Homo sapiens: one gene and its partners. The protein of the gene in region 5 interacts with the protein of the main gene of each other region in a biochemical or structural test. Each region holds a gene or a part of one and is shown on either strand. Other genes may lie near its edges. The genes, in order: ARHGEF16, SLC15A5, FRMPD4, RASSF6, PSMD9, PROCR and MAP2K2.

What was found.
Region 1: the proteins of PSMD9 (region 5) and ARHGEF16 interact in a test that uses a peptide from one of them, tested with the Homo sapiens proteins (one large-scale study listed by IntAct).
Region 2: the proteins of PSMD9 (region 5) and SLC15A5 interact in a test that uses a peptide from one of them, tested with the Homo sapiens proteins (one large-scale study listed by IntAct).
Region 3: the proteins of PSMD9 (region 5) and FRMPD4 interact in a test that uses a peptide from one of them, tested with the Homo sapiens proteins (one large-scale study listed by IntAct).
Region 4: the proteins of PSMD9 (region 5) and RASSF6 interact in a test that uses a peptide from one of them, tested with the Homo sapiens proteins (one large-scale study listed by IntAct).
Region 6: the proteins of PSMD9 (region 5) and PROCR form a complex in vitro, tested with the Homo sapiens proteins (one study listed by IntAct).
Region 7: the proteins of PSMD9 (region 5) and MAP2K2 interact in a test that uses a peptide from one of them, tested with the Homo sapiens proteins (one large-scale study listed by IntAct).

What each region holds. Positions count from the first base shown.
Region 1 is NC_000001.11:3,471,218-3,475,498, reverse strand, and holds part of ARHGEF16 (rho guanine nucleotide exchange factor 16), read right to left. Parts: intron 2,422-4,281; coding exon 2,269-2,421; intron 2,107-2,268; coding exon 1,977-2,106; intron 792-1,976; coding exon 717-791; intron 1-716. UniProt on the Homo sapiens protein: Guanyl-nucleotide exchange factor of the RHOG GTPase stimulating the exchange of RHOG-associated GDP for GTP. May play a role in chemotactic cell migration by mediating the activation of RAC1 by EPHA2.
Region 2 is NC_000012.12:16,274,280-16,279,263, forward strand, and holds the start of SLC15A5 (solute carrier family 15 member 5), read right to left. Parts: upstream 3,407-4,984; coding exon 3,046-3,406; intron 2,247-3,045; exon of another isoform or gene 1,914-2,246; intron 1,573-1,913; exon of another isoform or gene 246-1,572; intron 1-245. UniProt on the Homo sapiens protein: Proton oligopeptide cotransporter.
Region 3 is NC_000023.11:12,714,875-12,719,155, reverse strand, and holds part of FRMPD4 (FERM and PDZ domain-containing protein 4), read right to left. Parts: intron 3,088-4,281; coding exon 2,023-3,087; intron 1,656-2,022; coding exon 366-1,655; intron 1-365. UniProt on the Homo sapiens protein: Positive regulator of dendritic spine morphogenesis and density. Required for the maintenance of excitatory synaptic transmission. Binds phosphatidylinositol 4,5-bisphosphate.
Region 4 is NC_000004.12:73,578,555-73,582,835, forward strand, and holds part of RASSF6 (ras association domain-containing protein 6), read right to left. Parts: exon of another isoform or gene 4,052-4,281; intron 3,737-4,051; coding exon 3,635-3,736; intron 3,315-3,634; coding exon 3,263-3,314; intron 1-3,262.
Region 5 is NC_000012.12:121,898,469-121,902,749, reverse strand, and holds part of PSMD9 (26S proteasome non-ATPase regulatory subunit 9), read right to left. Parts: intron 3,117-4,281; coding exon 2,905-3,116; intron 1-2,904. UniProt on the Homo sapiens protein: Acts as a chaperone during the assembly of the 26S proteasome, specifically of the base subcomplex of the PA700/19S regulatory complex (RC).
Region 6 is NC_000020.11:35,174,850-35,178,421, reverse strand, and holds the end of PROCR (endothelial protein C receptor precursor), read right to left. Parts: coding exon 3,469-3,572; intron 2,255-3,468; coding exon 1,976-2,254; intron 1,725-1,975; coding exon 1,609-1,724; 3' UTR 1,060-1,608; downstream 1-1,059. UniProt on the Homo sapiens protein: Binds activated protein C. Enhances protein C activation by the thrombin-thrombomodulin complex; plays a role in the protein C pathway controlling blood coagulation.
Region 7 is NC_000019.10:4,103,017-4,107,297, forward strand, and holds part of MAP2K2 (dual specificity mitogen-activated protein kinase kinase 2), read right to left. Parts: intron 191-4,281; exon of another isoform or gene 1-190. UniProt on the Homo sapiens protein: Catalyzes the concomitant phosphorylation of a threonine and a tyrosine residue in a Thr-Glu-Tyr sequence located in MAP kinases. Activates the ERK1 and ERK2 MAP kinases.

The DNA of each region.
Region 1 (4,281 bases), on a different chromosome or scaffold from region 5:
CTGGGCCTCAGTTTCCCTGTCAGCGCTGTGAAAGGCCTGGGATGGATAATCTGGGAACCTCTGGGCCTCAGTTTCCCTGTCAGCGCTGTGAAAGGCCTGGGATGGATAATCTGGGAACCTCTGGGCCTCAGTTTCCCTGTCAGCGCCGTGAAAGGCCTGGGATGGATAATCTGGGAACCTCTGGGCCTCAGTTTCCCTGTCAGCGCCGTGAAAGGCCTGGGATGGATAATCTGGGAACCTCTGGGCCTCAGTTTCCCTGTCAGCGCCGTGAAAGGCCTGGGATGGATAATCTGGGAACCTCTGGGCCTCAGTTTCCCTGTCAGCGCCGTGAAAGGCCTGGGATGGATAATCTGGGAACCTCTGGGCCTCAGTTTCCCTGTCAGCGCCGTGAAAGGCCTGGGATGGATAATCTGGGAACCTCTGGGCCTCAGTTTCCCTGTCAGCGCTGTGAAAGGCTTGGGATGGATAATCTGGGAACCTCTGGGCCTCAGTTTCCCTGTCAGCGCTGTGAAAGGCTTGGGATGGATAATCTGGGAACCTCTGGGCCTCAGTTTCCCTGTCAGCGCTGTGAAAGGCTTGGGATGGATAATCTGAGAACACTCGCTGCCCTGGAAGGTAGGGGAAGCCAGCCCTATGCCATCGGGTAGGGTGGGGTTGGGTGGGGACAGGGTCGGGGTACAGGACTCGGGTAGGGCTGGGGCCAGGCCCCATCTTACCTTGCTGATGGCCTTCAGTGCACGGCTGGCAGCCTTGTACCTTTCGGAGTGGCCCTGGGTCTTGAGGCAGAGCGTCTGGATGGACAACAGACATGGGACAGAAAGTCCCCTCTGGCATCCCAGGTGTGGAGGCTCCCACCAACGCCAGACCCCGTGTGGGGCTGCAGGGTGGTCAACAGCTGCCCCCAGGGGGCTCCTGCAGGGCCCCACAGCACGTACAGCCCCTGAACGGCCTCTGCACCACCTGGAGCTCTGCCAGGTCAGGCCAGGTTGAGTGGGAACAGGAGCTAGCACCCCTGCCTGGAACCCTTCCCTTCCCATCCTCGGCCATCTCCATCCAACTTGGGGAATCGTCAGTGGAGGCCCCCTGGCAGCCCCATTTCTGCACATCCCTGGGGCCCCCAGGAGTTTGAGGTTCTGTTTGGCTTGGGCAACCCTGCCATGTGTAGCCTCAGGAAGCTTAGCTCAGTCCTGCCATGTGCGGGGCTGTGTGTATGGGCAGCATGCACATGTGTGAATATGCCTGTGCACCATGTGCATGCATGTGTGTGCATCCACGTGTATGTGTGTGCACCGGGTGCATGTGTGTGCAGTGCCTGTGTGTGCATGTATGCAAACGTGTGCATTGTGTGCACATGTGCATGCATCGGTGCAATGCAGTGTGTGCAAGTGTGCATGCATGTGTGTACTGGCGTGCATCCATACATATGCATTGTGTGCACATGGGCACATACGTGCCTGAGTGCGTGTACACTGTATATACATGTGTGCGTGTGTGTGTACACCTTTCACCCTCATATACCCTCTGCCCTGTGGGCTGGCATCCCACACACACAGCCCATGCTGGTGAGCCTCTCTGAGCCCCTCTCTGCGTCCACAGAACAGGGAGAGTAGGTGCCAGGGACAGGGCTACCACGTCTAGGAGGACTGGTGGGGTGGGGGCTGGGAGGAGGCTCAGCAGGGCTCTGGGTGATGCCAGTTCCAACTCGTCAGTGTGCCTGAACCTCATGAACCATTGAGTAAGTGAACACAAATCCGCCAAGGGCTGGAACAGTTCCCGGCACAGTGAGCTCTGTGGGTGGCGGCGACCACAAAGTTATCCTGGTTAATAAAGCCATCTTAGGATCGTAACTATTACAATATCATAGGCCAAGCCTGGAGGAGAAGGTCACAAGCACGTAATGCTCCATCCGGGGCAGGGCTCTGGCCGTGGGACCCCAGGATGGTATGCCCGGCCCCACCCTCAGGCCGTGGACTTACATCCATCAGGAGGGGCAGCCGGGTCACCCGCTGCATGGGGAGGATCAGGAAGGAGAGCATGGGCAGGCCCCCGCACGCCGGCCGCCTCTCAATCTCTCTCAGGGCCTCTCGGAAGGCGGCGTTGCTGCTTCTGCAAGAGGACAAGGCTGTCCTTCCAGGCTCTGCATGGCCAGCCTGTACCAAAATCAGGCAGGACCTGCAGAAGCTGGGCTGGGAGCAGGAATGTGCTTTGGGAGACCAGGGTGCAGGATGCTCCTGAGCCACCCTGCGGGCCTCGGGGCCGCCCACTCACATCAGCTTCTGCAGCGTGCGCTGTTGGTAGACCTCGTTGGAGCAGTAGGCGATGTAGGGGTGGAAGTGCTTCTCAGCGTGCTCCTCCAGGATGTCACTGATGTCCTCGACCAGCACCTGGGCCTTGTGCCGCTGCTCCAGGTCCTCGAAGAACCTGAAGGCAAGGAGGGGTGAGGAGGGTGCCACGGGCCTGGTGGTCGGGCCCCACGTGTGCACACACAGACATGCATCTGCATGCACACTCACACATACATGGACGTGGCAGGAGCTGAGCTCAGCTCCCAGAGGCAGCACACAGCAAGCACTTGGGGCGGGACCCGGACCTGGGATGCTGGACAGCAGGGAGGGCGGGTGGGAAGTGGTCAGAGGCCTGGGGCTCCTTACAGAGCCCCCTGCCACGATCCCACGCACTGGTGCCGTCCCTCTGTTGTCCAGGGGCAGCCCCAGGGACTGTCCCCAAAGGCGGGCCCATTTGGACCTCCTGTCCTGGTGCCCTGTCCAGTTGGTGCCCTTCGCCCTTCAAGCTCCTTCCAGCTAAAACGACTGGGCCTCCACACAGGCCCGGGCCCCCGCTGCCGCACCAGCTTGCCCCTGGGAAGAAACTCAAGGACGGAGACTCAGGGGACAGGCACAAGAGCAAAGAGGGGCGATGCCTGGGGCCACCCCTTCCAAGGATGAGTCCCAAATCCGAGGCAGCTCTGCTGGTCAAGCTCCCAGCTGGGTTCATGAACTGTTTACTTTCACTAGGTCCCCCACCCCGTTCTGAGGGAACAGTCAAGGCCGGGGGGGGGCCAGCTGTGGGCTCTTGGCAGACTCCCTGGAAGGGGCTACCAGCCCCTCACCTCCCCATGACCCAGGCCTTGGTCCAGGGTGATCAGGATGAAGGGAGTTAACACTTGGTCAGAGCTAGGCCAGGGCTGCCAGGATTCTGCCCCCATGGGCGGCCACGGCCACCAAGGCTGGGCTTGGCTGGACCCACGATGGTCACCTGCTGTGTGAGGCGGTGGCTGGAGCCTCGTCCATCCTGCAGACCCTCAGAGCACCCAACCCGAGACCACATCCGTGTCTCCAGGCCGCCGCCACAGGAGGTCCTCCCAGCCCAAGAGCTCTGTCCTTCGGAGGACTCCCTTACCCAGCGTGGAGGTGGGCGGGAGTCCCTCCTCCTCTGCTCACGGGGCCCGACTGGGCCTGCCACCCACGCAGGAGCCACGCTTCCTGCAGGGAGAGTGTCCTGACAGCTGCTTGCCCTTGAGAATCCCCAGCAGATGGAGCTGCAGTCCCCGTGGACGAGGACCCAGCAGGTCATGGGAGGCCTCGGTTGCTGGATGAGCAGGGCCACGACATGCGTACGTGCCCAGGCCGGCCAGGCCGGTCAGCAGCTCATATGGGTGACTGCAGGTTCTGAGAAAGGTCTGGGAGAGCCGCCCACCAGCCGCTTACCCCAAATAGCGATGATTCCCCAGACAGTTCACTGTGAATGCCAGGAGCTGTCGGGGGCCCAGCTGGGGGAGGAGGCCGGAGCTTCCCGCCCCAGGGCAGCAATCTAAAGCCCTGAGGAGGTCAGAGGCAAACATGCAGCTGCCTGAGGCAGAGGGGACCGGAGGACACAGAGCTCAGAGAACACAAAGCCTGCCTGGCTGGGGGCAGAGCTGGGGGAGGGGCAGCCGCTATCCCAGACCCCTCCCCCTCCCCCAGCCCCATCCCATGCTGAGTCAGAGGTTGGGAGTTTCCCATAGCTGGTCCCTGGAGCTCTACAGGAAGCCCCTGTCTCCAGGGACAAGGCGGCTCCCTGCCCACCCTCAGGGCCCCAAAGTTCCGCAAGGGCACCCCACAGGCAGCAGATGGGTGGGACTCGCCAGGGGCGGGGCTGATATAAGAATGCGCCAGCAACCACCACTGTTGGGGCAGCCCTGTGCCAGGCACTACAGGCCCCTAATCATCTCCCAGCGCCACCCAAGCCCACGAGGGGACCAGAGGCACCGCCCCTCAGGTTAGCATTGAGGCTGAGGCTCAG
Region 2 (4,984 bases), about 110 Mb from region 5:
CTACCATCATTGTATGAGAAGATCTTCATTCATACTAGTTAGCATCATTAATTTTTTTGTTTTGATGATTCGATTAGTGAAAAATGGCTCCTCCATGTTCGTTTTGCTCTTCATTTTATTAATTTGGCATTAATGTTATTTGGTATAAATTTTTATACAGTTATTTCATGTGATTTGTTTTCTCAATTAGATTATAAATTCCTTACAGATAAAAATTTGGTCTAATGCTTCCATCTCCCCTACAGAGGCTTTCACAATGTAAAGACTATATGCCCTTAATAGCTATTTGGCAACAGATTCATTTACCATGAGGTGAGCCCTTTAAATTATTGAGTTTGAAATGTTCCCTTTTAAGGTTAGCCAGATATGAAACTAACTGCTCTCTTTCTACCACTTAGTCTTCTCTTCTGTAGGTGTGACGTGAGGCCTGGCTAGACAAAGGGATGTCCAAAGAGGAGGGACAGGACAACTATTTCATGCAGGAACTATTAGGAACAAGGCACTTTTAGTTTGAATGATATATTTGTGTAACTTAGGCACTTTACTTCCATCTTTTGAGAAAATGTCATAATAGGCTGATTGTGTTAAATCAAAACTTTATCCCTATCTGTTGTAAAATGATGCAGTAAAGAGACAAAACAATGACATATATGAAGAAAAGTCTCCTCTGTGATGTGTGCAATTGTGTATCTCATCATCAGTATGCCTGCATTTAGTAGCTCTGTAGAAGCACCATGATGTGTCATACCCCCTGCCAGGTGATGGGGGTCCGCTGAAGGAAATGTTGAGTCCATCAGAGAAGTCAGCCATGCAGGTGGACAATTATATTATAAAGTGATGGATGCAATCGTATAAGTATTATATGGGTGTGGTTGAACACAGAGAAGCTAGCAACAAACACTATTTGGTTCTTGAAAGAATAGCAGGAGTTTTCCAATCATGGATAAGGGATGGAAAGATAAGGGAAGGTGACAATTTCAGAAAGAGAGAAGAGCATGTACAAGATTAGAAAACTAGGGAAGGAGGCCAGGAGAAGTTAGCAAGGTTGGGGTTGCGTGTTGAACAACAAGTCTAGAGAGGTGAACTTAGAATAGGTTGGTAAGGTTGTTGTATGCTAAATTAATAAGTTTGGATTTCATTTTTTAGATAATAGAAGCAATATAGAGATTTATTTGTTCAGGAAGTCAGTGTTGTTGGTAGAATGGAGTACAAGCTGGAGACTGACTGAGAACTGGCAGCCGAGTAAGTAGGCCATTGGAATGGTTAAAAAGAAGAAAGCTGCATTTTTTCAGCTAGGGTAGTAGCAATTCAGACAGAAGACCTTTCTTATATATAACCTCTGAAATTTAGTGACAGTTGGAATTTGATGGCAGCTGTAAGTGGAGGGCAACAAAGAAATAACTTTTAGTAAAAAAATGAATGGATGTAGAGTTGACTTAAGTCTTTTGTTTGCCAGATTCCAAAGTTGGGATTTCCATCCTGTCTGATGACTGACCTCAGAATTTAGACTGATAGAAATTACCATGTTAAACAAGAAGTCAACAAATGCTACTGGTGTGGCCTGTTACCAAGGTAAGCAGAGTAAGTTAGTCTGGGATTTGCTTAAATGTCTTCTTATCAGAAAACTTTTTCTCGGTACCAAGTAGCAGCCTCATCACCATCCATTCCATCCTGTCCCCCTACCCAGCTTTATTTTTCCATCCTAACTCATTGCCACATGACATCATATCTATTTCCTCTTTTATTTTCTCTCTCCCTGCACCAAAAAGTCAACTTTAGCAGGAACAGACGACTTTCTTCTCTATTGCATTTCCAGACCCAGAATAATGTCTGGTACAGAGTAGTCAATAAGAAATATTTGTTGAATGTTGAGTGATTATTTGCCATGCAGTGACCTAGTTTTTATTCCACAGAACTAAAGCTGTGAAGTTTCCAGGTTTGACTTAAACTCCAATGGATTCTCTGAATGGTAATTTACCACCTGCCTGAGATTGTGTGATATGTTGAGTACCTGATATCTATCCATCTCTTTCTCATCTGTCCCCCTACCAATACTCATTTCAGCTGCACTTCTCATTATTGGTGAACAGCATGCTATATTCCCAAGTTGCTCAGATCAGAAACTTGGAGCTAATTTTTGACCCCCATCACATTTGTACCTTTATTTAGTTGCCTTACAGCTTTTCACTTGTTCTCTCCTGAATTGGCACTTTATTGCTTAAACCATCATCCTGAGATTTTCTGATCTCTCTCTATTTAATTCCTCACTGTGGTTGTCCATCCTGTATTGCAGAATAGCATTTCTCAAATGTTGTTTTCATGATATTTTCAGAGACTTCTTGTTGCTTAAGAAGAATAACTTGAACTTTTCAGTTTAAAATTCTAGTCTGTTCTTCAAGTTGCTCTCTATTTCTTATTAAACTATCTTGATATTTTCCCAGCATTTCTCACAATCGGTCCCAAACTTTTGCAGATATATATTAGTATATATGTAAAGATGCACACTATAGTGTCTAATTTACTCATTTCTAAAGCATATAATCATAGTTAAAAATATAGAAATCATGCCATCATATGCAATCTTAATTACTATATGACTAATTAAAAGACCACCTTTGGATAAAAACATTTCTCAATTATTTTACATGAACTTCAAAAACCTTTTTTAGCACATTTCATCTTAGTTGTGAAGCAAATACATTTCACATTTCTGAGGGAATTTGTCATGAATTTAGGCTTGAGGTAAAAAGGTTTTGGGAAAGGAGGGCATTCTAAGGAGTAAGATAGATATGTAAAGGAGTAATTATTATAAAATATAAATGCAATGATATAGGCACAAAACATTCTCTAACACACACACACACACACACAGACTTACTAGCATTCTTCAAATAGTACAAAGAATGAAATACATTGAACCCACATTCTTACTTCATTTATCACATTTTATGCTAAGAGCAGAGTGAAAATAATATAAACTAAAAATTCTAACAAAAATCTACTTAATTAAGTCACAAAACAATCCAGTCAGCAGAGGACACTCACCTAGAAAATGTAGAAACAAGCAAATGTACACCAGTTTGTTTCTTCCTAAATAGACATCAGTGAGCCATCTGACAAACACAGGGGTAAGTATTGAAGTTCCAATAAAACACAAGTTTAAGATGGCTGCTTGGCAATTGTGATAGCCAAGCTTGATAGTGCAAAAGGGGATCATGTTGCAGACGACTTCAAAGAACGTGAACCTCTCACACAGCTCCACCAGAAGCAAGCAGATTCCAACCTGAATTTTTTTCACAGAGTGTGAGGAACACAAATCGCCAATATGTCTTACAGTTTTCTCCTTCTCAATGCTGTGATATAAGTGTACTTTCTCATCAGTTATGGTAAAGCCTGTAACAGACATGACTACCCTCCTTGAACAAAACTTATGTTAGTGGTTTGAACTTGGTGATATTTTGAGCCCCATCCCTCTGATGAAAAAAATAAGAACGTTGCTTTGAATTTCACATCTCCATGCTAGAATTTCATAAGGTTTGTTTTTTGCACATGGACGTTGTTCCTTTTGATGATCCAAGAGCATGAGTATTTAAATGTTCACAGTAGCTCAGTGTACCCAAATCTGATTTGTTTGCTTAATTACTTAGCGGCTAAATTAGGATCGTCCTCCAAAATTGTATTGAATTACATGAATCCAGTTGCAAACATGTGGAAACTCATCTGCCTCATACTGATAAAGGTTTAAATATTGAGGCAGAAGAAGCAGGTTTTCGGGAGAATTTGAGCACTAGATCAAGAAATAATTTGAGTCTAATAATTTCTGATACTTTAATTAAACAAGCCAGAACAGTACCAAGAGATAAAGCGCAAAAGGAAATCTGTTTTGAAGGGCACGATATCTTATCATTATTACATTTCTTGTTATTTTTGGTTGGAATTCTGATAAGAAACTTAATTAGGTAACAAAAGTGCTAGTACATTTAGGTAACAAGCAGAGTTTACAAGAAAGTAATTTAAGTGCACTAATGAAAGGAGAAAATATTAAACGAAACCCTGCTTCCTTTTAGTTGACCCCATGCTTGTAGAACAGCCTCTCAGAGGAAATCAGAATCAAAAGGTGCTATTTAACTCCTTTATTATTAATCAGTAGTCAGGGATACAGCAACCAGCCTACACAGGCTTTGGGGAATATTGGATCTGGTATCACCCTGACCCTTCAGCTGGGTGAATGGGTGTTAGCATTCTATTTTGGAAAGCAGGAGGGCCAATTAAGCTAAAAAAGCAGCAGTGAAAGAGAACACCTTAACATTTAGTGGCTTAGCTGCAAGGACATAGGAAGAAAAGGGACCGGAACTATTGGGTCAAAGTCATAATAATTCAACACTTGAGTATAGGAATGTTATTTTCATGCTGTAGTCAAAACCTAAAGACCAATAGGGACTTTTGACTCTGGTTATCATCTTTTGGTTGTGAGAGACTGGGGGCAAAATACTCTGTTTTGACCCCTTCTAATAGCCTCATTGTAATGGTAGCTATTTGTCTCTGCTCAGCATTGCTACTTTGGTAACGATGCCCTAAATTTCCTTTGTGTAAATTGATCATGCAATTTATGATCCAAACTTGGACAGTTTTGTGCAGGTGAAAAGTGATGCTATTTATGGTTACTCCCCAAAAAAAAAAAACAGTTATAAACTGGGACTGTCCAGGGCAACACTCTAACATGTGTTCACCCTACCTTTGGAGAATGACTCCTATCTATTACCTGAGATCATGGTGGGGCTGTTGATCAGCATATGCCTTTTCTTCTAACCAAGTGGGTCAACACCCGGTCTAAGATAGTCCTTTTACTTTTCTCCTGTGGAATTTTAATCTTGAGTGGAATGACTTAAGAATGGGCATGGTGGCAGCTGAGTTATTCAGATGGCAGTGTATTAGTCTGTTTTCATGCTGCTAATAAAGACATATCCGAGACTGGATAATTATA
Region 3 (4,281 bases), on a different chromosome or scaffold from region 5:
CTCAGATGTCTTGGGAAGAAAATCAAACTGTTATGTGACTCTAAGCAATACTATCATATAACTAAAAGTCACACTGGGCATTGCTAAACATCTGCATTTAGAATTTAGGAAAAACATATTGCCCCATCCAATTCTGAAAGCAAGCACAGAGTAAGATTATAAAGAGCAAATGCCATTTTCACCTTTATAATCTTTAGTATTTATTAAATACCAGGGGATCAATGATTGGTACTTTACAGTTCTGTGGCCTTTTAAAATTCTACCTTTTACTTTTCTTCCAGACATTACGTTTTTAAGTTTGTTGTAAATATGGTTTACATGCTCTTGGCATGTCATACAAAGTGCTAAATCCATCATTGCTGTACCTGTGGTTTCCTTAATCTTGGGGAGCCGATGGCATCCATCTCTCAATGTGCCAAACAGGGGTTCGGTGTTAATGGCTGTGTGCAGAGCAGGCACTGTCATCCGTGGACACATCCCTTCTGTCTGTGGGTGCAGTTCCTTAAAGGTGGCTCCGTGGTTGGGAAGCCCAGGGGCTCTCTCCTCTGAAGGAATGTAATTCACGCCTTTCCCAGAAGCGTCAGGAATCAAGTGCTTCCCCAGGGAGGGGCAGAGCGGCGACTCCACGGGTGTGGCACAGGCACTGCCACTGCTGCCTGTGCCACAGCCTGCATCCACTGAAGAGCCTTGGGAGCTCTGCAGAGAAAAATGGCCCTCGCTTTGCAGTGATGACATCCGCTTGGCCAAGTGGTAGTCACAAAGGCGGGCCACACTCTCATCAGCCTCAGGAAGCTTGGAAGGATGGTCGCAGGTGGACGAGTCAGCGTCCTCTGGGTTATCTAAGTCTTTGGCTGAAGATGCACAGGTCACGTCAGTTAAGAAGCGGTCCCCTTGACCAAGTCCTGAGCCATCACTGGTTTCTCCATCAGGAGCTCCTTCTTCCTTCCCTTCGGCCTCCCTTGCCCCAAGACCAGAAGCTCTTGGAAAGGTTTTCCCTGTTGCTGCTTCTAATCCACTTTTTTCAGCCATCCCACCTTCAGTGGCCACATACCATCTTTGACTGTCCTTGCGAAAGGCAGTTCTCTCCAGATTAAAAGTGCTCAGGTGTTGACTGTCTCGTGAAGACACAGTACCAAATTTACCACTGGCCTCCTCCTCCATCTCTGCCGTTTTGGTCCCCTGCTGTTTTTTTCCTGTTGTGTTCCCATTAGGGGGTGCCTTCCCCTCACCATCGGCCAGCTTGCTTTTCCTTTTGCTAGTGCAGGAGTATGCCACCGACCCCATGTGCAGTTTGCTAAAATAGTCAGTGACCGACTTAGTCTCCATAGTTTCAGGCTCCATCTCCATGTGGTCTGAGTGAAGTAACTGCTTGGAAGGCACAACTTTGGGCGGGAGGTCGGTTGCTGGCCTAGCAGCCAGGGCGTGCGAGGACTTTGGAGGCAAGCCCCCAGCGGGGGTCTTGGAGGCCGGGAACTCGGTCTGCTCTTCTGCAAGGGGGTGGTAGCCTTCGTGAGTGGCCAAGAACATGCGGGAGAGGTTTTCTGACTGTTTTTGTGCTGTGGCCAGTTCAGAACTCTCAGTCATTTCAGAAGAGTTAGTTTCATTGCCCGAGTCTGACGAAGACTCAGGACTATAAGCCCGCAAGATGGCTACACCTGCATGCCGTAAAAAACAAGAACTGATTAATGGATGCATCAGAGGCACTTGGAGACATGTAAGAAAATGGGACTCGTTATTACTAAAACAAAATACCAAGTTTTTCCCTTTTCAGTAAGGACTCTGAGTTTATTGCAGTTTTTCCAGAAATGGGGGTGGGGGGAGATGTGCCTTATGTTTTTAAAAAAAAATAACAAAGGAAATCACATACACACAAAAAAACCCATGATGGCAGTTTCAGCACATTTATGAAATGGGACATGTGTGAAATGGAGAACACCACGTAACAGGACTCCAGGGGCAAATGGCTTGGAAGGATGGAATGATATGGTTATCAGTGAATGAATGTAACAATTGTGAAAGAACCTGAATTGTCACTGGTCTGCTGTTCTTCTGACACGGATAGAGCCTCTAGAGCTCCCAGCGTGGAGACGACGGCATTATCCAGTCCCTTCTCACACTTGCCTTCGGCGCTGGTGGGCACAGCGTCAATGAGGGACACGGGGATCTCATCATTTTGCAGGCTGCTGCCTTTCTCCTTGTCCTCGGGGAAGGAAGCTGCCTGGCTCTGAGAGTCCTCTTCATCTGAACTGTCTCTAAAGCCAGGTGGGGGTGCGGCAATGGCCATGTTCAAGGAACGCAACAGGAAGTCATCCTCATTGTCATCACCTTCTGGAGGGGGCAGGGATGTGAGGTCAATGATGTCATCGCTTGACCCAGACAGGTTGAGGATGGCCGGCTGGTTCATCTCCCCCACCACGAGGTCCTCCTCGCAGCTCACCTCGTCCTCGTCCTCCGCGTCATCAGTGTTTTCTGCATAACAGATGTCATGCAAGAGGGGTTCCTCGATCCCCTCCGCGGCCTGGAAGCTCTTCACATCGCCTATGTTTGCATAAACAGAATTTTCCACAAACTGGATGCCCTCTGCCTCTGGAGTGAGATCCAGGCCCTTCATGTCATTGGCACTGCCAATGTAGAGATTTCTCTGCTTCTCCAGCATTTCAGGACCCTCATCTAGTAGCGTTTCATAGCCAAGGGTTGGGGGACTAATACCATCATCCAAGGCGAAGTCTCCAAAAATAAAGGACACTTTAGCTCCTCTCGGAGATTCCTGTGCTTTCTTCAGAGTTTCTGGTCCTGAGAGGGTCAATAGGGACCGCTGAGCTAGACTTCTGTAGTCTGCCTCACAGGGGGCCTCCCCGGGCTGGCTCAGCTGCTGGTTAAGTCCATCTGAACTATAGGCATTGTCTATGTACAAGTGCCGGTGCTCTTTTGGACACATGGTGCTGTCTGTGATCTCCACCGTCTTCTGCTTTGAATCTATGTATGTTATCTGGGCTTCTTGTTCCCCTTCGCCAATAAAGGTGGTCATTTGGGGTATACAGTTCCAATCTGGGCCAAGGAGGTTATGCTTCCCCTTGTTTTCAGGTCCTAAAGAGAAAGAATCACGCAAAGACACATTACTGTACTGTCTGGTTTTGGGTGGGGCGGGGGTGGGAGGCTCGTCTCTGTTTTTTAACTTAATGGCTTGTAGCATCACTTATGTAAATACAGTTTTTCAACTACCCAAATATAGTACTTATTGATTTAGGCTTCAGGTGTAAGAATTCCTTGGGTTAGGAGAACCGACCTTAACAAAATTGATACTGCATAAACTGTAATTGCTATTTGATAAAATGTAATACCATCTGGGGGTAGGGAAGTATAGCTTAATTCCATCTGACCCTTGGTTCTATTATTAAAAGGCTTCATTCATATCTACAAATGTAAATATACAACATGTCTTTTACCCTTAAAGGTGAGATTTCAATAGGCCGTTATTCCAGAACATTAATTGTTCTTTTCCTTGTAAGGTGAGATTTAATATTCCCTACTTCATGGAGGAAGATATTGAGTGTTTTCCTCATTGAATTCAGAGACGGTCAAGGATCGTCAGAGTTTTACCATAGTTTTTAGGAAATTAAGATAAATGTTGTAATGATAGTACAAAACTTCTATCTTCAGTCTTTTGATATCCTAGTGGATGTTAAAATATTCATGTATAAATGTCAGCATGCATGCCCATGTGTATATGTGTGTGTGTGTGTATAAAATGCATAAGGTGGCATGGTCACAGGTAACGTACTTTTCTCTGTAATTTCTAAGCATAATTAATATTTAGATTAATTTCAATTTTTGTTTGTATCATAGGAACTCCTGAAAATTTGTTTCATGTTCCTCATGGATTAAAATTACAAAACCCCAATTTAAATACTATTATTTTGTTTGCTCTTCAAGCATCTTTCAATCTGGAATTTTGATGTGGAGATTTGCTCTGATATTTAACAAGACAGAGAACTGGGTCATTCTGTTGATATTGCCTTGTAGATTCCAGAGGCAACATTTCCAGAAAATTTTAGGGCCATACTATTCTCCCATCTGTTCCCTCAAACTGCCCCCAGCACAAGTTTGGATAACTGACATCAGATGTGCAAGACATATGGGAAAAAAGTGCAGTTTTACCTAAGAGATTTTTGCTCCCCGCAAATCATGCAATGGACTTAATGCTGAACAGTGTTCAGGGTCATTTTAATAAATTCATGTATTTTCATGAACAATAAGAGATATAATTTTGAAGACATTGAA
Region 4 (4,281 bases), on a different chromosome or scaffold from region 5:
TCACACAACTCATAATACATAAAGGTAATCATATCGTGCTTGCTATTTTTATTGTACACACCTTTAAACAAATCATTTTTTCTCTTTTTTTTTTTTTTAGACGGAGTGCAATGGCACGATCTCAGCTCACTGCAACCTCCGCCTCCTGAGTTCAAGCGATTCTCCTGTCTCAGCTTCCTGAGTAGCTGGGATTACAGGTGTGCGCCACCACACCTGGCTAATTTTTTTGGTATTTTTAGTAAAGACGGGGTTTCACCATAGTGGTCAGGCTGGTCTCAAACTCATGACCTCAAATGATCCGCCCACCTCGGCCTGCCAAAGTGCTGGGATTACAGGCATGAGCCACCGTGCCTGACACCCCCCTTCTCATCCTCTCATCTGCATTTCCCCAATCCCCCACCAGGTAATCTATCTCAATGGTTTTGTATTTATCACTCCATACCTTTCTCCCTAGTCATAAGACCATATATACCACATACTTAAATGGGAGCTTGTAACTGTTTAAAAAATGGGATCTTTTATATATACCTTTAGGCATCTTGCATTTCTCACTTAAAATATATTATGGAACTCCCTCCATTCTATTGGCATAAATCTACTCATTCCATTCAATGGCAGCCTAACAATCACTTATTTAATCATTTCCCTAGGATGAGTAACTTTGTCTTTAGCTTTTTGTCCTTATAAACAGTGTTACACATAAATCTGTAGGCACTAGTGCTTATATTTTTGTGGGATAGATTCTCACAAATGGAATGGTCAAGTTAAAGGACATATATACTGTAAATTTTAATAAATATTGCAAGAATAAATTCCAATAAGAAGAAAGTCATATTTTCACTAGTGTTGCATAAAAATATCTTTTTACCCTGATGCATGCCAGCCATGGGTAGAATCATTTTAAAGCATTTTGCCAATCTGAGAAGTGCAAGATAATATTACGGTGTGGCTTGAGCTTGCATTTCCTTAGCTACTTGCATTTCACTGAATTTAAGACTTTTCTAAAACTATTTAACTGGTTATTATGGTTTTTCCTTTCAATTGTATTTTCATGCTTTTTTCTATTTTTATCGGATTGTCTGTTGTTTTGTTACCATTTTGTAGGAAATTATTGGTATTATAGTTATTAATCTTTGGAGTACATTGACAATATTCTTTGTAATCTACTATTTGTATCTTTTAAATTGTTACACAGTCCAGTATTGCTACCATTTATTTTATATCTTTTGGTTTTCTTTCTTTCCTAAACAACTAGAATATGAATATATATGTGTCCTTAGAATTTTCCAAAAAATAGATCTTTATTTTATTTTATTTTATTTTTATTATTATTATACTTTAAGTTTTAGGGTACATGTGCACAATGTGCAGGTTAGTTACATATCTATACATGTGCCATGCTGGTGTGCTGCACCCACTAACTCGTCATCTAGCATTAGGTGTATCTCCTAATGCTATCCCTCCCCCCTCCCCCGACCCCACAACAGTCCCCAGAGTGTGATGTTCCCCTTCCTGTGTCCATGTGTTCTCATTGTTCAATTCCCACCTATGAGTGAGAATATGCGGTGTTTGGTTTTTTGTTCTTGCGATAGTTTACTAAGAATGATGATTTCCAATTTCATCCATGTCCCTACAAAGGACATGAACTCATCATTTTTTATGGATGCATAGTATTCCATGGTGTATATGTGCCACATTTTCTTAATCCAGTCTATCATTGTTGGACATTTGGGTTGCTTCCAAGTCTTTGCTATTGTGAATAATGCCGCAATAAACATACGTGTGCATGTGTCTTTATAGCAGCATGATTTATAGTCCTTTGGGTATATACCCAGTAATGGGATGGCTGGGTCAAATGGTATTTCTAGTTCTAGATCCCTGAGGAATCGCCACACTGACTTCCACAATGGTTGAACTAGTTTACAGTCCCACAAACAGTGTAAAAGTGTTCCTATTTCTCCACATCCTCTCCAGTACCTGTTGTTTCCTGACTTTTTAATGATTGCCATTCTAACTGGTGTGAGATGGTATCTCATTGTGGTTTTGATTTGCATTTCTCTGATGGCCAGTGATGGTGAGCATTTTTTCATGTGTTTTTTGGCTGCATAAATGTCTTCTTTTGAGAAGTGTCTATTCATGTCCTTTGCCCACTTTTTGATGGGGTTGTTTGTTTTTTTCTTGTAAATTTGTTTGAGTTCATTGTAGATTCTGGATATTAGCTCTTTGTCAGATGAGTAGGTTGCGAAAATTTCCTCCCATTTTGTAGGTTGCCTGTTCACTCTGATGGTAGTTTCTTTTGCTGTGCAGAAGCTCTTTAGTTTAATGAGATCCCATTTGTCAATTTTGGCTTTTGTTGCCATTGCTTTTGGTGTTTTAGACATGAAGTCCTTGCCCATGCCTATGTCCTGAATGGTAATGCCTAGGTTTTCTTCTAGGGTTTTTATGGTTTTAGGTCTAACGTTTAAGTCTTTAATTATAGATCTTTAAGCTTTCAATTATAAGAACTTTAATTTTATATATGTTTAGAGATACAGCTTTCATTTTCTTAAGGTGTTCTGGCATCAAAATGTATTATTTTATTCTAATAAATTTCTGGCTTGAACATTCTGACACTTAAATTATAGCATGAGTTTTTTCTACAAATTGATATATAAAATTTTTCATTTGTGAAGTTTTAAAAACTTTCATTTCAGTATCACTTTAAGTTTTCTCTATTCTCTCTATTATGCTCCTAGCATCCCACTTACAGCGCCTTCCCAATGTTCTGCTTCTAACCTTTCACCCCTCACCACGAAGTTCTGAATATGCATCTCTACTGAGGAAGAGATAGCACTCCCGCAATGTGTCAGACCCTGTGCTAAAAAAGAGGCAATATCAATGTCAGAGAGAACAGGTATGCAATCATGACTCCTCTAAGAGCAACACTCAGAAAGGAAAGCCAAAAAGAAAGTTACAGAGGTGAGCAAAGACAAAAGTGCCGAAACAGTTCCAGAGGGTTTTGATCTCCATTTAGATAATTTAATGTCTGGCCAACAAGCAAACTCTTTCATATAATCAACCCTTCAGGGATACCTTATTCTTAAGTTATCTTTCTTTAAAATTGTGGACTATAGATAATGTTCTAAAGACCACTCCTTCCTTTTCTCCTACCCATTCCTCCCCTTTCTCCACAGAATGAGGCAAACTGTTCTTCTGCCTTCCCCCTGGGCAGCAAACTGTAGCACTCTAGAGTCAGGTAAAAAGTGTGATCAAGCTTTCTTACCTCCTGTTGCAAAAATAATGTGAAGAGCAAAATCCTGGGGACTATTTTCAATCTGTCAAGGGAAAAAATGAACAAATATAAATTCTTTGTTGTTATATGATGTTTTCTAACCTGACCAGACCCAAATCATGTCTGTTTTCTCTCTTCCATTTTTCACTTTTAGACATAAAATCTTCTCTGCTCTTATGGGAATTATATAATTTTTCAAGGGATAGTTACTAAAAGGTGTTATACAAAGGAAAGAATCTTTCAGTGCTCAACATCCAATTTAGATTTACACCTTTATAGATCTGTTTCAGAAGAGTGGATTTGTGTGTTTATAGTTGAATTATATATAATATATTTATAGCTCAGTTAAGTGATAAAGGTTACCTTAAATTTTTGGAGAAGTTGCTTTATTACTTCTTCAGTTCTCATGTTACTGTTTACTCTGACCTTAGTTTCTGATTCAAAGGCTGGAATGAAAATTGATGTCTAGAAAAAGAATTGTCACATAAGTCTTTAAAATTATATTATATTAAGGGTATTCAATATCTTGAACATAATCTTCTTATAGGGCAAAAAAAATCCAAGGTCATTAATTTAAAAAATTTGTTTTGTTTTTGTTTGTTTTTCTTTGTTGTTTTTGAATATTATGTGTTCTTTTAAGCAGCTTTATATTGTTTCTAGAGTAAATTAGGTAAAACACCATTTGAGGATGCTTATAACATTTTCACTGGACAATTACACCCCTCTTTAGTGCAGTTTAAGATTTCAAAATAAGTAAGAAAGAATGTCACCAGATGCATATTTAAAAACGGATAGAGATATTAAGTAAGGATTTATTTCCACATATTTTATTTATATGCACAATCTCCAAGTATTCCAAGGCTCTGTAGAAATGGGGTGGGTTCAGCAGATGTAGAGATGGGTGGGTTTTGGGGTGGCTCATTGGACTGTTAAAAAGATAAGTCCTATATTGAGAGATCAGTAAATTAACATCAAAGTATACAGACACAAACATTTATAACACCCACACA
Region 5 (4,281 bases):
GTTACCAGACACTGTGAAGGCCTTGAGGAGCATGGGAAAGGCCAAATGCTGCTCTCTGCGGTCCTAACCCAGGTTCAAGGGTAAGAGAAGGCAAGCCAGGCTGGGCCCATTTTATTCAGTGATCAACATTTAGACAAGACACTTGCCCTAGAAGCCCCCAGACAAGCAGCCACAGGCACAGGGCGCATCCAAGACTAGAGTGACGCTCTTGTTCTAGGTCCTAAGAAGACAGACCACCACTCATTCACCCCTGTAACAAGTATTTGTTGTGGGCCAACTGGCACTGGGTTAGATGCAGTAGATGGGGTAGTGAATGATAGGGAGCTTCTGTGTAACTTACAGACTTGTGACCATTAAAGAAGACTGGTAGGACCAGGGTTTAGGACCCCATTCCACCTGGCAGGAACTATGTGTCCTGACCAGGGTTTAGGACCCCATTCCACCTGGCAGGAACTATGTGTCCTGACCAGGGTTTAGGACCCCATTCCACCTGGCAGGAACTATGTGTCCTGACATAAGTTACTTCAGGTCTGCAAGGCTTTTCCTCGAGGATGAAATGAGTAAAGATTAGGACCTATCCCAGAAGTGGCTGTGGAATTAAATTTAACTACATCTCCACAAAAAAACTGTACAAGAATGTTCGCAGCAACATGCTTCGTAATAGCCAAAAAGTGGTAACAATTCAAATGTCCATTAACTGACAAATGGATAAATAAAATATGATATATCCAGGCAGTGGAATATTATTTGGCCATAAAAAGGAATGAAGGGCCAGGCACAGTGGCTCACGCCTGTAATCCCAGCACTTTGGGAGGCTGAGGCGGGCGGATCACGAGGTCAGGAGATCGAGACCACCCTGGCTAACAAAGTGAAACCCTGTCTCTACTAAAAATACAAAAAATAAAAATTAGCTGGACGTGATGGCAGGCGCCTGTAGTCCCAGCTACTCGGGAGGATGAGGCAGGAGAATGGCGTGAACCTGGGAGGCGGAGCTTGCAGTGAGCCGAGATCGTGCCACTGCACTCCAGCCTGGGCGACAGAGCGAGACTCCGTCTCAAAAAAAAAAAAAAAAAAAAAAAAAAAGAAGGAATGAAGGGCCAGGCATGACAGCTCATGCCTGTAATTCTAGCACTTTGGGAGGCCGAGGAAGAAGGATCGCTTGAGGCCAGGAGTTCAAGACCAGCCTGGGCAACATAGTGAGAACCCATCTCTAAAAAAAAAAGGAAATAAAAAATTAACCAGGCATGGTTACATGTGCCTACAGTCCTAGCTGCTTGGGAGGCTGAGACAGGAGGATCACTTGACTCTGCGAGTTTGAGGTTGCAGTGAGCTATGATGGCACCATGGCACTGAAGTCTGGGTGAGAGAGTGAGACCCTGTCTGTAAACAAATGAAGCACTGATCCATGCTCAATACAGATGACTTGAAAATTTGCTAAGTGAAAGAAGCCAGTCATAAAAGGTCACATATTATATGATTCAACTTATAGGAAATATCCAGAATAGACAAATACATAGAGACAGAAAGTAGATAACTGGGTGCGGGGAGCTGGGGGATTGGGAAGTGATGGCAAATCACTACAGAGTTTCTTTACAAGACAATGACAATGTTCTGAAATTGATTATGGCTGGGCATGGTGGCTCATGCCTATAATCCCAGCATTTTGGGAGGCCAAGGTGGTAGAATCACTTGAGCCCAGGAGATGGAGACCAACCTACGCAACAGAGCGAAACCCCATCTCCTTTTTTTTTTTTTTTTTTTTTTAGACAGAGTCTCACTCTGTCGCCCAGGCTCTGGAGTGTAGTGGCACGATCTCCGCTCACTGCAACCTCCACCTCCTGGGTTCAGGCGATTCTCCTGCCTCAGCCTCCCGAGTAGCTGGGATTACAGGCACATGTCACCACACCCGGCTAATGTTTGTATTTTTAGTAGAGATGGGGTTTCGCCATGTTGGCCAGGCTGGTCTTGAACTCCTGACATAAGGTGATCGCCCACCTAAGCCTCCCAAAGTGCTGGGATTACAGGCGTGAGCCACTGCACCTGGCTGCAAATTTTTTAAATAGAAAGAAAATTGATTGTGGTAATGCATGGCTCTGTGAATACACCAAAAGACACTAAACTGTATACGGACTTTAAATGGGTAAATTTTTTTTTTTTTTTTGAGACGGAGTCTCACTCTGTTGCCCAGGCTGGAGTGCAGTGGCATGATTTTCGTATTTTTAGTAGAGACGGGGTTTCGCCATGTTGGCCAGGTTGGTCTCGAACTCCTGACCTCAAGTGATCCACTGGCCTCGGCCTCCCAACATGCTGGGATTACAGGCGTGAGCCAATGCTCCCGGTCAAAAAAAAATTTTTTTTAAGACAAGGTCTCACTCTGTCACCCAGGCTGGAGTGCAGTGGCACAGTCACAGCTCACTGCAACTTCGACTTCCTGAGCCCAAGTGATCCTCCCATCTCAGCTTTCCAAGTCGCCTCAGCCTTCTCAAGTGCTGGGATTACACGCATGAGCCACTGTGCCCAGCCTAATGTTTTTTTTAAGACACCACATAAGATGCATAACTCATTTGGCAAGATGCCATTCTCATTTTCATCATTCAGTGCCCAGCTAAAATGAGCCCCAAGAAGAGATCCTCTCCCTCTCTTGGGACATTTATCATCTTCTGTCACTGGGAAGAGGTCACTCCCCCACCAATGTAGTGGGCAGCCGGGGCTGACCCCTCTCTAAAACTCTGCCCCCAGCACAGGGCTGGATACACGACAGGCCTCAGTCAGTGTTTGTTAAATGAGTAACTGAACTCAGCACCGCAGCACGGAGAGAACTAGTCTGTCTTTCCACATCCCCGAAGGCTACCTGACCCACCGTGTCCCCTGGGCATGGACTTGAGTGGCCAACCCCTGGATTACCGCGATGCTGGCTGGGGAGCCGGGGCTGATGCTGTTCACTTTGGCGAAGGCCCGTGGAGGGCCCTGGCTCTCACTCTGACCCAGTTTGCGGCTCATGGCCTCTTTGTGGGCCTCAGCCATGTCCCGGGCCTGCTTCTCCTTGTCGCGAGCGTGCAGCTGGTGCAGGGCCTCCTCCACCTGCTTCATCACTGCCTTGTGATCATTCTGCAGGCCTGGGATGAGAACCACACATCAGGGGCCAAGGAAGACAGTGGAGGACACAAGACTCCTACATTTATTCACTGAAGAGTTAACAAGTGCTTATTACATGCCAGATGTGGAGCTAGAGGTGAGAAGGAGTCTCTGACCAAGACAGAGGACATTCCCTCATGGAGCATTCAGTCCTGCAAGGAGCAGCTCCAGAATAAGTAATTACAATAACATCTGATGACTGCAGGGAGGCCTGGCCAGCAGCAAAGTCTGCCCTCGCTAGTCTAGGATATGAGGGAAGGCTTCCTGAAGGCAGTGCTGTCTCGGGTGAGCCCTGAGAGGTGAGCAGAAGGAAGGTAACAACCAGCTGAATCCACAGCCATGAACTCAAAGGCATATGTATGAGGGGCCAGCGCTGTGATCATGTGAATGAATGACTCAGGCTGGGTGTAATCAAGATTTCACTTTTCTCTGAAATCCTCTAGAAGGAAAAATGCTGCATAAGCCGGGCACAGAGGCTCACGCCTGTAATCCCAGCACTGTGGGAGGCCGAGGCAGGCAGATCACGAGGTCAAGAGATCGCGACCACCTTGCCAACATGGTGAAACCCCGTCTCTACTAAAAAATACAAAAATTAGGCCGAGCGTGGTGGCTCAGGCCTGTAATCCCAGAACTTTGGGAAGTCAAGGTGGCCGGATCACGAGGTCAGGAGATGGAGACCATCCTGGCTAACACGGTGAAACCCCGTCTCTACTAAAAATACAAAAATTAGCCGGGCATGATGGCAGGCGCCTGTAGTCCCAGCTACTCGGGAGGCTGAGGCAGGAGATTGGCGTGAACCAGGGAGGCGGAGATTGCAGTGAGCCGAGATCGCGCCACTGCACTCTAGCCTGGGCAACAGAGCAAGACTCCGTCTCAAAAACAAAACAAAACAAAACAAAAACAAAAATTAGCTGGGCGTGGTGGCGGGTGCCTGTAATCCCAGCTACTTGGGAGGCTGAAGCAGGAGAATTACTTGAACCCAGGAGGTGGAGGTTGCAGTGAGCCGAGATCGCACCACTGCCCTCCAGCCTGGCGACAAAGCAAGAATTCGTCTCAAAAAAAAAAAAAAAAAGTGCTGCATAAGCCTAGTAATCCTGGAGACATTCAGTCCAGGAGAGGGAGTCCACAGGGAGGTGGCCAAAGGGC
Region 6 (3,572 bases), on a different chromosome or scaffold from region 5:
TTTTTTTAGAATTAAAAAAAAAAAGAATCTCACTCTGTTGCCCAGGCTGGAGTGCAGTGGTGTGATCTCAGCTCACTGCAAACTCTGCCTCCCGGGTTCAAGTGATTCTCCTGCCTCAGCCTCCCAAGTAGCTGGGATTACAGGCGCGTGCCACCAAACTTAGCTAATTTTTGTATTTTTAGTAGAGATAGGGTTTCACTGTGTTGGCCAGGCTTGTCTTGAACTCCTGACCTCAAGTGATCCTCTCGCCTCGGCCTCCCAAAGTGCTGGGATTACAGGCGTGAGCCACCGCGCCTGGCCGACAAAACACATGCTCTTAAAGATAAAATTATATTGCTTCTCCATGGAAACCACAGGTAGATAGTATTTGCAGCCATGAAGGTCAGTAGGTCACCTAGAAAGGGTATAGTTCAAACAGGAACAAAAGGAACCAAAAAATGGAATTCTAAGGAAGCCAGCATTTCCAGGGTGAATCGTGTAAGATGACATAGTCAAAGGGATTGAAAAAAAGTAGACAGAACAGTTTTAAAAATTGAAGTATGGTATCTCAGAAGTTAAGGCAAAAAGAGAGTTCTAGTCCGCAAATTTGCAGATACCATGTAGGGTGATGGTTTGACAATTAGAGGTTACTGGTGATCTCAGAGTAGTTTATAGAGAAGTCAGATTGCACTGGGTCTAAGAATGAGTGAGAAGACCAGGCGCAGTGGCTCACGTCTAATCCCAGCACTTGGGGAGGCCGAGGTAGGCGGATCACGAGGTCAGGATGGCCAACGTGGTGAAACCCCATCTCTACTAAAAATACAAAAATTAGCTGGGTGTGGTGGCATGCATCTGTAATCCCAGCTGCTTGGGAGGCTGAGGCAGGAGAATTGCTTGAACCGGGAGGCAGAGGTTGCAGTGAGCTGAGATCACACCATTGCACTCCAGCCTAGGCAACAGAGCAAGACTCTGTCTCAAAAAAAAAAAAAAAAAAAAAAAGAATGAGTGAGAAATAAGGAAGCAGAAGAAATGGGTATAGGTTACTTTTCCAGAAATTTTGCAAAGTGGAGGAGATAACAATGCCTTAAATATAAGAAATTTATTAATATTATTAATTGATTAATAATTGATCACTGCCATATGACTTGGATTTTACATTTCCACCACTTCTTCGTGTTACTTCTTTCTACCCTATTATATCAGCGTCCCATCCCAAGTCTGACACACCTGGAAGTATTGAATGTTGTATTTTGATTGTGGATGACTTGTTTATTTGGTTATATCTTTTGAACGCCTCAGGTGATTCTGTCTGTCTTTGGAGGATGGGCCATAGGCTTCCTGCCCCAACTCCATTATCTGTTTTCCACAAAGATAGATAAACATTCACTTATCAGACTAATTCAGCAAAGCATACACGTTCTTAGGTTCTTAGCAAACCAAGTACTTTGTCCACCTCTCCTCTCCATCTCCCCTCCCTCAAATCTTCAGTGGGCAGATGTGGGAGAAGAAAGGAGCTGTCACTCCAAACCTTCTGGTGTTTCAGTTGGGGAGTCTGGCTTCACAGTGAGCTGAAACTTTCCCTTGCCAGCCTCCATCAATCCAGCCCCTTCTGAGGGGGCTGGAGAGTAATTAACATCGCCGTCCACCTGTGCACAGGAAGATGCCTACAGCCACACCAGCAATGATGAAACTGCCCACCAGGACGCCCAGGACCAGCGAAGTGTAGGAGCGGCTTGTTTGGCTCCCTGCAGAACATGCAAAGAGTTAGCCCGAAGAATAGGCCCCCAAGGAGTCCATGATTTGAGTCAAACCCCAAAGCGTTTCTGCCCCAGAGGAAAGGGACCCGTTTACCAACTGACTGAAGCTGCGTGTGTTCTGTCCCAAACCCCCAGCTGTGGGCCTCTTGTTGCTCTAGGCATCCATCCTTCAGGTCCATCCATTTGTCTGGAACCCGCCCTCTCCCCAGCTTGCAGGCCTGGGCCCCGTCCCATCATACCTTTCGTGTTTTCCGCGGAAATATGTTTCTGCACATACTGCACACAGGTGTCCTCCAGGAATTCCCGCAGTTCATACCGAGTGCGGTTGTAGGCATTGAGCTGCTGCAGGGTGAAGGTGACCACTCCGGAGGTGACCTGGGTGTCTGCCTGCCACAAGGCTCTCTCCGGCCGGAAACTCACAAAGGAGCTCCCATTCACAGCCACTTCGAAGAAGACATGGGCTCTAGAGCCCTCGGGAGGCAGCTCACAGCCCAGGAAGCAGCGGATGGTCAGAGGAACTGTGGATAGACAGTCAGGGTCAGGGGACTGTGCAGAGAGGGTGCCAGGTGTGGGGCGAGGCCCACCAAGGGGAAAAGAACATGAGAAGGCAAGAGTCAGTGCTGTGAGGAGAGGGGAGTCTAGGTCAGGGAACTATGGGGAGAAGGGCCTGGGGCTGTGAGGAGGGGTTTGGGGTTAGCCTGTTAGAGGCTAAGAAAGAAGGGGCCAGGGACTGTGATGAAAAAAGGGAATTGTCAGGCCTTGTTCAACTGTAATAGAAAAAAAAAACAGGGGGTGAGGCTGGGGCAGGGGCGGCAGCTCACGCCTGTAATCCCAGCACTTTGGGAGGCCAGGCTTGTGGATCGCCTGAGGTCAGGAGTTCGAGACCAGCCTGGCCAACATGGCGAAACCCCGTCTCTACTAAAAATACAAAAAATTAGCCGGGCGTGGTGGCGGGTGCCTGTAGTCCCAGCTGCTTGGGAGGCTGAGGCAGGAGAATCGCTTGAACCCGGGAGGCGGAAGTTGCAGTGAGCCGAGATCGCGCCACTGCACTCCAGCCTGGACGACAGAGCAAGACTCCGTCTCAAAAAAAAAAAAAAAAAAAAAAAAGGGGGGTGGGGTGGGGGACTAGGAGAGAAAGGAGTTAAAGGCCATGATGGTGGGGGAAGGGGGACGGAGTGGTGCTTGGTGCTTTGAGAAAAGAAATTGGGGTCTTTGAGAAGAAGGAGTTAGGGTTGTGACGGGGAAGGAGTGGGGCTTTGAGAGAAGAACTTGGGGTCTTTGGGGGAAGAGTTCGGGTCATGAGTGGAGCTAAGAGCGAAGTCATCAGCTTGTATGAGAAGTGGCTGGAGGGTGGGGGGTGAAGTGCTGGGGGCTGTGGGAAGGGAAGGACGGAGATCTATGAAGAAAAGGAGTTGGAGGACTGTGAGGCGAGGGGTGAGGAGTTTTCTGGGGACCTTCGACGTCACGGTGTCAGGGCCTTCCAACAGGGTCTATCCCAAGAGGTTATGCCAGCAGGACGACCGCCCGAGTCGGGGCTTTCTTAGCGGGGACAACTGCCTCTCTCCAGCCCCCACCCAGCAATCTTCAAAGGCCCAGGCGCCACCGAGCTCCAGTGGCTGCCGGGTCCCTGCAAGTCCCAGCCCGCCTCCATCCGCCAGGCCCCGCCCCCACCCGCCAGGCCCCGCCCCCACTAGCCCCGCCCAGACCCCGCCCCCGCTGCGCGCCTACTCACAGGCCAAGGTCCGCTCCTGGTGCACCAGGCGCACGAGGCCGTGGAACTGGAGCAGGTAGGACTGCAGGCCACTCTGCGTGCGCGCCCAGCTCTCGGGCTCCTGC
Region 7 (4,281 bases), on a different chromosome or scaffold from region 5:
GCTCCACTGCTGGGCGTCTGCCCTGCGCCTGTCCCTGCCACCTAGGGCAGAAAGGCCAGGCCGAGTAGGACCAGGGGCCAGGGGGTGCATGGACTGCAGGAGGGATCCCAGTGACGCCAGCCCAGGTGACGGTAACCTCGGCCCCTCCCCACAGCCTGTGGTCTCCTCGCCACTGTGCCGGGCATCCTGCGGAGGGCCTGGAAACGAGTCATCATGGGTAGGCTGGTCCCCGGGTGTGGCCCCACATCCATGTCATAAATGATGAAACAGAAATTCCATGTCTTGCCCAAGGCTGCCTGGCAACAAACCTGGGGACCAAAACCCCCAAATGCCAAAACCCCAGGCACTGGGAGCCACCCAAGGTGCCTCTTCAGAGGCAGAGGCTCCGGACACACCTGCCAGGCCACCCCCAGGACAGCAGGGGTGACAGGCCAAGTTCCCACTGCCACCGTCTGGCGTGCGTCTCTTCTGTGCTCAGCAGAGAGGAAAGTGGAACTGAGGCTAGAGAGGGCGGGCTGGAGGAGCCTGGAGAGGCTGGCTGGGGAGCCTGGATTTCCCCACCATGCTGCTCCAGGACTCCTGCAAAAGCCCAGCCTTCCCTGGGATGGCTTTCATTCACATGGGTGGGAGGAGCCGGGGGAGAAATCCTGGGACTCAGGGGTGCCCGGGTTGCCGCTCTCTGGCCACTTCTGCCCAGCTAGGCTTGGAGAGAAAGGCCGAAGGCAGTTCTAGAAAACCCAACACGCTTTGAGACCTCTAAAGCATACACGTGACTCCATCCACCAGCTCCAGGCTGAAGACGCAGACACACAGGGTGAGAGGGCAGGTATGGCCAGGGCTCAGACAGCCCAGGAGGAGGTGCCAGGACGGGAGCTCCAGTGAGCCAGGGCCAGGTGGAAGCTGCTTCTATTCTCAGTTTTTATCAATCTACCTTAAAAGAATTACTTAAAATGAGGCCGGACATGGGCTGGGAGCGGTGACTCACGCCTGTAATGCCAGGACTTTGGGAGGCTGAGGCAGGCGGATCACTTGAGGTCAGGAGTTTGAGACCAGCCTGGCCAATATGGTAAAACCCCATCTCCACTAAAAATAAAAAAAATTAGCTGGGCGTGGTGGTGGATGCCTGTAATCTCAGCTACTCGGGAGGCTGAGGCAGGAAGATCACTTGAACCTGGGAGGCAGAGGTTGCTGTGAGTCGAGATCGTGCCACTTCTCTCTCGCCTGGGCGAGAGAGCAAGACTCCTCAATTAAAAAAAAAAAAAAAAAAAGCCGCACGTGGTGGCGCACACCTATAATCCTACCACTTTGGGAGGCCAAAGCAAAAAGAATGCTTGAGCTGAGGAGTTTGAGACCATCCCGAGCCACACAGTGAGACCCCATACCAAAATCAGCCGGGCGTGGTGGTGCACGCCTGTAGTCCCAGCTACTCAGAAGGCTGAGGTGGGAGGATCCCTTGAACCTGGGAGGTCAAGGTTGCAGTGAGCCGAGATCACACCACTGCACTCCAGCCTGGGTGACAGAGCAAGACCCTGTCTCAAAAAAACAAAAACCAGAAAGAGACCAACGACTCGAAAGAGGCAGGGTGGCGAAAACCAAACAGACGCACCAAACGCAACCCTAAAACCCCTGCTCCCCAGCACAGCTCCTTCCGTCTTCGTTTCTCCTGGGGCCGCAATCAATGTTTGTTTAGTGAGAAAATTCAAAGAGCCTCTCCCCGGAGATGAGGGCGGGCGGAGCGCTGTGCTGCAGCCTCAGGAGCTGGTGGAAGACGCCTCACAGGAGCATCGCTCTCTCTGCAGCCGCCTTTCTCCACTGTGACATCGGGGCCAGGTCACTCTCTGGGGTGGGGCCGACCTGGGCACTGCAGGGCGCTGAGTAGCGTCCCTGGCCTCCATCCACTCCACGCCAGGAGCATCCCCCAGTTGTGACAACCACACACATCCCCAGACAGTGCCAGGTGTCTCCTGGGAGGGAGAACTGCCCCTGGTTGAGAAGGGCTGATCTCCAGCTATAAAGACCAAAGTCTGGCAGGGTAAGCAATTTGTCTGAGTCACAGAGACAGGATGTGGTGCAGGGGGTATTGCAGCTGTGTACTGCTGACCCCAAATCTCACTCTGTGCATGACCATACACGTCTACCGTGTGTGTGTGTGTGTGTGTGTGTGTGTGTGTGTGTGTGTGTGTGTGTGATGTTTAAAATGGTCTTGTAACTGTAATTTTGTTACGTAGGTAGTAGGTGAACACATTTTTCTTTCTTTTTTTTTTTTTCCTGAGGCGGAGTCTCGCTCTGTTGCCCAGGCGGGGGTGCAGTGGCACCATCTCGGCTCACTGCAAGCTCCGCCTCCCGGGTTCACGCCATTCTCCTGCCTCAGCCTCCTGAGTAGCTGGGACTACAGGTGCCCGCCACCACACTCGGCTAATTTTTTGTATTTTTAGTAGAGATGGGGTTTCACTACTGGTGTTAGCCAGGATGGTCTCGATCTCCTGACCTCGTGATCCGCCCGCCTCGGCCTCCCAAAGTGCTGGGATTACAGGCTTGAGCCACCGCACCCGGCAAACACATTTTTCTTATAAAAAATTCAAATGAGGATAAATAACCTGGACGCCGCATCACTTCCACCATTCCCCCCTCAAGTGTGACTTATATTGTTCCAGATCTTTCTTCATCTCTCTCTTTCTTTCTTTCAGGCAGGGGTCGCCCAGACTGCAGCATAGTGCTGTGATCTTGGCTCACTGCAGCCTCCACCTCCTTGGTTCAGGCAGTCCTCCCACCTCAGCTTCCCAAGTAGCTGGGAGTACAGGCGCGCCACCATGTCCTGCTAATTTTTTGTAGAGACGGGGGTTCCTCATGTTGCCCAGGCTGCTCTCGAAGTCCTGGCTGAAGAGGTCCTCCCACTTCAGCCTCCCAAAGTGCTGGGATCACAGGAGTGAGCACCTGGCCCCCGCATCTTGCTGTGTATTTGGAAACACAGACTCGGGACTCACTCTCTTGCCCAGGCTGTAGAGCAGTGGCTCAATCATAGCTCACTGCAGCCTCGACCTACTGGGCTCATGGGATTCTCCCAAAGCACTGGGATTAAAGCATGCTTGCCCAGCCAGAGTTTAAAACAACATCGAAATGGGCTCATGTCTGTAATCCCAGCACTTTGGGAGGCCGAGGCAGGAGGGTCACTTGTGGCCAGGAGTTCAAGACCAGTCTGGGCAATATGGAGAGACCCTATCTCTACACAAATAAGCAAATAAATTAGCTGTGCATGGTGGCTCACGCCTGTGGTCTCAACTACTCGGGAGGCTGACGTGGGAGGACAGCACCAGTACACTCCAGGCTGGACAACTGAGCAAGACCCTGACTTGAAAATACAATAAACAAATGAATGGGCCAATGCTATGTTTATTTTATTTTTCTTTTATTTTGAAATGGAGTCTTGCTGTCGCCAGGCTGGAGTGCAGTGGCATGATCTCGGCTCACTGCAACCTCCGCCTCCCGGGTGCATGTGATTCTCCTGCCTCAGCCTCCTGAGGAGCTGGGACTACAGGCGTGCGCCACCATGCCCAGCTAATTTTGTATTTTTAGTATAGATGGGGTTTCACCATGTTGGCCAGGATGGTCTTGAACTCTTGACCTCGTGATCCGCCTGCCTTGGCCTCCCAAAGTGCTAGGATTACAAACGTGAGCCACTGCACCCAGCCCATGCTATGTTTATTTTCTACAACCACCCCTCCACTACATGAATAGTGTTGTACTGTGGGGATACTCCCATTCAGTACACCATTGTGGATTTCACTTTGCCACTGCAAAGCAGCCAAATATCATTCTTTAATCACTCCCTTACTGATGGACATGTCCAGTTTCCATTACAGTAGAACAAGACGGGCATTCTTCAGCAGATAGGACGAGACCCCCAGAAAGGCCAAGGGGCACCTCTACGAGGTCCGTAAGCCACTGGCTCTCCTTTCCCCATCCCATGAGGCCCCACTGTCCACTGGGTTCTTGCCCCGAGTTATCCAGTAATAGGTTCAGACCCCAGGGAAGCAGCCAGCCCCACTGTTCCTAAGTTCCAGTCACCAACAAGTGCTTGCCATTTTATATAAATACATCACTGGGCACGGTGGCTCACCCCTGTAATCCCAGCACTTTGGGAGGCTGAGGCGGGAGAATCGTTTGAGCCCAGGAGTTCAAGATTAGCCTGGGAAACATAGTGCCATCCCATATCTACAAAAAAACTTGCCGGGCGCGGTGGCTCACGCCTGTAATCCCAGCACTTTTGGGAGGCAGAGGCAG